2 separate regions of the Homo sapiens genome follow, and region 1 is linked to region 2. Evidence: fine-mapped expression QTL. Tissue or cell type: whole blood. Region 2 holds a variant in brackets; the other region holds the start of a gene. Each region is shown on its reference strand, or each on the opposite one.

Evidence for each region. PIP is the estimated chance that this variant, and not a neighbour inherited with it, causes the effect. A credible set is the group of variants that fine-mapping cannot tell apart.
Region 1: it holds the start of RILP, and the variant in region 2 is the best candidate, but not a certain one, in a credible set for the expression of RILP in whole blood (TOPMed, PIP 0.56).

Annotation. Positions count from the first base shown.
Region 1 is chr17:1,647,891-1,650,816 of GRCh38, forward strand. It overlaps RILP (Rab interacting lysosomal protein), which reads right to left and starts at 1,976. Exons shown (of 8, transcript NM_031430.3): 1 at 1,687-1,976; 2 at 1,522-1,615; 3 at 1,310-1,416; 4 at 909-1,154; 5 at 460-605; 6 at 1-67. The coding sequence starts at 1,914. It overlaps PRPF8 (pre-mRNA processing factor 8), which reads right to left. Exons shown (of 43, transcript NM_006445.4): 43 at 2,739-2,926. The coding sequence ends at 2,912. RefSeq lists a silencer at 1,285-1,579.
Region 2 is chr5:173,859,439-173,861,938 of GRCh38, forward strand. No RefSeq gene overlaps it. Among named protein-coding and RNA genes, the nearest start is that of CPEB4, 28 kb to the right of the region's middle. RefSeq lists a cis regulatory region at 1,094-1,561. The variant G/A (reference allele first, on the strand shown) is at 1,410.

The DNA of each region.
Region 1 (2,926 bases), not on the chromosome of region 2:
CTTCCGGACAGCCACCTTCATGGCCTCGAGCAGAAGGCCGGGGACCCGGTGGTCTGTGAGCAGCTCCCTAAAGAAAAGGGGCAGGGAGGGAGAAAGCCCTGGTGATGCCAGCCATGGGGATGCCAGCAGTGGAGATGCCAGCCGCAGTCCTCACTCCTGGTACCTGTGCACGCAGCTCTTCCCTGAACACGGGAAGCGCTCTGCCTTGCTGACACCCTCAGACCTTAAATTAGGTGGCCCCGTGGCCCCCTCCTAGGAGAGATTCCCTGGCTGCTGCAGCTGCAACCCTTTGTACTGTCCCTCTCCCCTGTCTGGATGACATTGCAGGAGGGCAAGGGCTGTACAATTCATGTCCTCCCAGTTCCCAGCGCAGGCCTGGCACATGTCACTGTGGACATGTCAATGACTGGAGAATGAGGTGGGGTGATCGGAGGCCCCCCGGCTTCCCAGCGTCCTCACCGCTGGAAGTAGGCCAGTTCCTCCTTGAGCAGGAACACTTTGGCTTTGAGTTCATTCCGCTCCTGAAGGATCTGCTCAAACTCCTCCCGACTGAAGCGGCACTGCCCTGCCTCCGAGGGGCGCCCGAGCTGCTGCGCGGCCTCCGCCTTTGGAAGGACAGGCACAGTCAGAGGGTCGCCTCGGCTGGCGTTCCCCCGCCCCAGGGCCATCATGGGAATGCTAGAGGAAGTGACGGGCCGGGAGACTTGGGGGACAAGGGTGCCCTAACAGATAACAGAGCAGTGCTCCAGCTGAGAGCGGGGGCCGAGGCCGGCCGGGGGCGCAGATCTGTCTGCCACCTCCCCGCTTCCTGGCCGACCTGCTGTGCAGCATGCAAACCTTGCTTGAGTGCCCACCGAGGGCTGGACGCTGCGTCCTGGGCTGGGTCCTTGCCCTCATACGGCACTCACCGGGTCCTCAGGGTTCCCTGGGGCGCCTGCGCCGGCGGTCGCCCATTCGGGCTCCTGTCCGTGCTGGTGCCCGGGCCGCCCGGCCTGCCCCCGCGCTCGCTCTTTAGCCTGCGGAGTCGCGGCTTCGCCAGGCTGCTGGCGCTCCCTCTCGCGGTCCTGCGCGGCGCGCAGCTGGGTCTGCATGGCCGCCAGCTTGTGCCGCAGCTCAGCGTTCACCAGCAGGAGGCGCTGCAGCTGCTCCTGCAACTGGGAGCGGAGCAAAGGGTGGGGTGGGCGGGGCACCGAGGGCCCCCCGGAGCCCCGCCCAGCGCCTGCCTCGCTCCGCCCCCGCCCCCGGAGCCCCGCCCAGCGCCTGCCACGCTCCGCCCCCGCCCCGCCCCAGAGCCCCGCCCCGCCCTCACCGCCTCGGTCTCCTGGCCGCGCTGCCGCAGGTCGCGGTTGTGCGCCCGGAGTTCGTCCCGCTGTCGGTCCGTGACCTCCTTGAGCTGCCGCAGCAGCGCGCGCTCCTCTGAGGAAGGGGCGTTCTTAGCGGCGGCGGCGCGCGGCCCGCGGGAGGGAGGGGAGGACCCGAGCAGGTCGTCACCCGCCCTGCCCTGGCCGGGGCTGCGCTTACCCTGTGGCCCCGCGCGCAGCTCCCTGCGGAGGCGCTCGTTCTCCTCCCGCAGCCGCCGCAGCTCCTGCTCCGCCGGCTGCGCCGACACCTGCAGCTGGGGAGACCCGGGTCTCAGGCTTCGGCCCTGCCGGCCCCGTGGGTGGCGAAGGGAGGGCCATGACTCACCGAGTCCGGGGCGGGCCCCACGGCAGCCTGTTCCAAGAGCTCCAGCGCCCGCACCACTAGCGGCACCAGCCCGGCCGCCGCCTCCGGCCCGAAACGGCGCGCCAGATCCTGCAGCTCAGTGCCCAGGGCCCCGGCTAGATGGTACACAAGCTCCGCGGCCGATGCCGACCCCGCGGCCTCCCGAGACCCCCAGCCAGGCACCCCGGGCGCCGCCCTCCTGGGCTCCATGTCTCCCAGAGGCTTAGGGCTGCGACCCCCCCACCCCACCCTCCACTGGGACGGGGAAAAGCGAAACAGTTCCGCCCCAGGAAGCCGTTTAGGGCGGTGTGGGCGGGGTAGAAGCGATAAGGGTAGGGAGGAACGAGGAAGGGAGAAGGCGTGGGGTAGGGAGATAGTGCCCTAGGTCGCCTGGGCTCTGTCCTTTCCACCCCCAAGGTCACAGGAAACAAGACAGCCAACTTCCAGCCAGGCGTCCAAGAGCTGAGGTTCAGGGCTGCAAGTGGTCACTTGAGTGGAGCCCTCCCCACAGGCCCAATCCAGGCTCCGCCCGTTTGGAGTCATGGGGCCAACTTGGCAGTGGCCCGCTCCAGGCGAGAGGTGACAGGTAGGCAGCCGGTCTCTGGCCTCCGCCCGGCTGTACACAAACTGCCTGCCTGTGTGCTTGTTTTCCTGACCAGGACTGACACAGAAAGCTTAAAGGGCTGGGCTGGACACCGCAGCCGCTCAGCACAAGCCACAGAGTTCCTAGACCCGGGAAAGGGCAACTGCTCCCAAAACTGTGGAAAGGAGGCGAGAGCTTCCAAGTAGTTTTGTGGAAAAAGCAGCAAATGTGGTCAAGGCAGCGGAGTGTGAAAGCCCAGCCCTGCCTCAGGTCTCCACTGAGTCCAGGGGCTATCTACCCCAAAGCCCTGAATAGGAAGGGGGCCTCATACTCCCCCCTTCACAGCCGAGCCCAGCATCTTGCTGTGAACCGCTCCAGTCCAGCCTCCTGTTAGACCTAAATCCAGAATTTGAGTTTGGGGGGGAAAAAAAAAACAAACCAGCCCCTGAACTCCTATTTATACAAAATTTATTATTATATTTTATTCAGGATGACAAGCCATCAGGAGGTCAACAACACAAGCACAGACAGAGGGAAAGAGGCCAAACTGCTGAATGTCAGCGGCCTGTCTGGAGGGGCTGAGGCTTCGGCCTCGGGAGGCTGAAGCAGGAGGCAGGGAAACGGTCAGGCATACAGGTC
Region 2 (2,500 bases):
GAATAAAGGAGGCTCAGAGAGATAAGTTTAGCTGCCCAAGCTCACACAGCAGGGAAGTGGCAGAGTCTGACTAGACCCAAGATCTCCTGACTCCAGCTGCAATCTTCAGAGAGTTACGATGATGACATACTTCATTGCACACAGGGAACAGGTAACAGAGCTGGGGAACCAAGCCCAGCACTCACCCCAGTCCACCACACAACCTCCCTGCTTGCATTTGCCCAATGAATAAATATTTGCTGCCCACCTGCCAGACACCAGGGTCTACTGGATGTCCTGAGGATGTAGCTATGAGCAAGTCAGGCAGGATCTGTGTGTCCCCAAGGGGCTCACCTTCTAGTGCAAGAGACAGATGATAAATAAGAAAGCTGGTAGGTTGACAAGGGTATTGTTGTTGGGATTATCTCATGGTGGAAATATTCAAGGGCTGGGGCAGGGGAAAAGGGTGGGGTATGTGGTCACTGCTTTAGACAGGAGGATCAGGAAAAGCTTCTACGAGGAGGTGACATTATCTGAGAACTTCAAGATGTGTAGGAGCCAGTCATGGCAGGGAGAACAAGAAGGGTAAGGGCCCAGAGGTGAGATGTAGCTTACCCGGGACAGGGAATAACACAGGGCAATATGGCCAGAAGGTCACAAATGAAGACCAGAAGGGCTCAGGATGAAGTTGGACAGAGGTTGGCAACAGATCTTGAGGATCACATAAAGGGGTTGAATATATTTCCCTAAGGGCAACACAGAGGCATTGAAGGGTTTAGGCATGGAGGTGACATGACCGGATTTGCATTTTAGAAAGATTTCTCTCTCTCTCTCTCTCTCTCTCTCTCTCTCTCTCTCTCTCTGTGTGTGTGTGTGTGTGTGTGTGTGTGTGTGTGTGTGTTTTAGAAAGAGGGGAGTGGGGAAAGGTTGCAGGGTGGGGACCTGGGAAGCCAGTGGAGTGCTGTAGAAGCCCAGACATAGCTGAATGAGGGCAGTGGCAATGAGAAAGGAAGAATGGGGCAAATTTGGGACATGTTTAAAAGCAAAATAATGCAGAGTTGTCGACAGCTTAAAAGTGAGCAGCGAGGGAGGGGAGGTGTTCAGAATGACTTCCAGGCTCCTGGCTTGAGCAAACTGGGTGAAGAATAAGGCTAGTCTAAGGACTGTTGGAGCAGGACAGTGCAGGAGGGCCTGGGTGAAGATTAAGAACGCTGCCCCAGGCTTGAGTCTTGAGTCCCACCCTCCAACAGAAGCCGTGCCACCAGCAACAAGATCCCTTCCCCCACAGAGCAGGCAGGACCAGCACCAAGATAACAATTCCCTCTGCCCAGAGCCTTCCGGGGACGCCAGCCAGCCAGGCCCTGCTGCAGCCAGGGCACTGCATGCTCTAGATTGGGTTCCTGGAAAAACTGTTCAATTATTGATAAGGA[G/A]CTCCCCTGACATCACTGAAAGACAACAACCCTCTCTCCTCGCTGCCCTACAGATCTGGGTTCCCCGGCTTGGCAGCTGGAATATGATGGGGGTGGGGGCCAATGCAACCCTTGAAACGCAGCCACAAGAAAGCACTCAGCATACAAAAATAATAACAATGCTGTAATAACTTACATTTTCTGAACACTTGCTATGTGCCAGGCAGGGTTCCAAGAAAGCTTGGAACCCTGGAACCTTGGAACTCTTCTTAAGAACTCTAAGATGGAGTTCCTATAATTATTCCCACGTTATAGGTGGAAAAACTGAGGCAAAGGGAGGTTAGGTAAATTGCCTCCTTAGGTCACCCAGCTTGGAAATGGTGAAGCAGTCTCGCTCCAGAGTCTGTGGTGTCCCCCACTTCTCTGGAACTGCTTCCAGGTGATAACACAGGTGGGGAGGGGAAGCTGGTAGCAGAGAGGCCTATTTTACCTTTCTGCATTTGAAATAAATAAGTTAGATATTAGAATGATGTGGGCAACATTGAACTAAGCCCCTATTCAGCGCAAATATTCACCACTTTACTAACCCTCTATGCAGTGAGAAATCTGCTCATACCATGTTACAGATTTCGAGAAAACTAAGGTTAAGAGAGATGAGAGGTTTCACCAAGTACTGGGCAGCTTGGAAATAACTAACCTGAAATCTGAACCTTGGTCATTTAACACCAAGGGCAGTGAGTTCTCTGACTTCACTGCACATATAAGTATATGCATATACCGTGTATATAAATTATGCACATTCCCTGAAAAGGATATTGATGTTTCCACACAGAGCACACATGCTACACGGTCCAACCTCATGTTGTGATGGCCATCTGAGTATTTCCATCCTCACAGAAAGCCCAGTGAAAGATCCACTCTGTAGCTAACACTCCAGCTGCTGCCACCTTGCTTGTTTTCTGATCTTGGGTAGGTGCTCTTCTTTTTGTGACCTTAGAAGAGAAGAAGTTACACCCTAAACCCATTTCTCTAATCCTCCACCAATTTACTGCTTTGAAATATTCAATTACTTCCTTTTATTTTCTTGTCTTTGAAATTTGTTCAATAGTTTG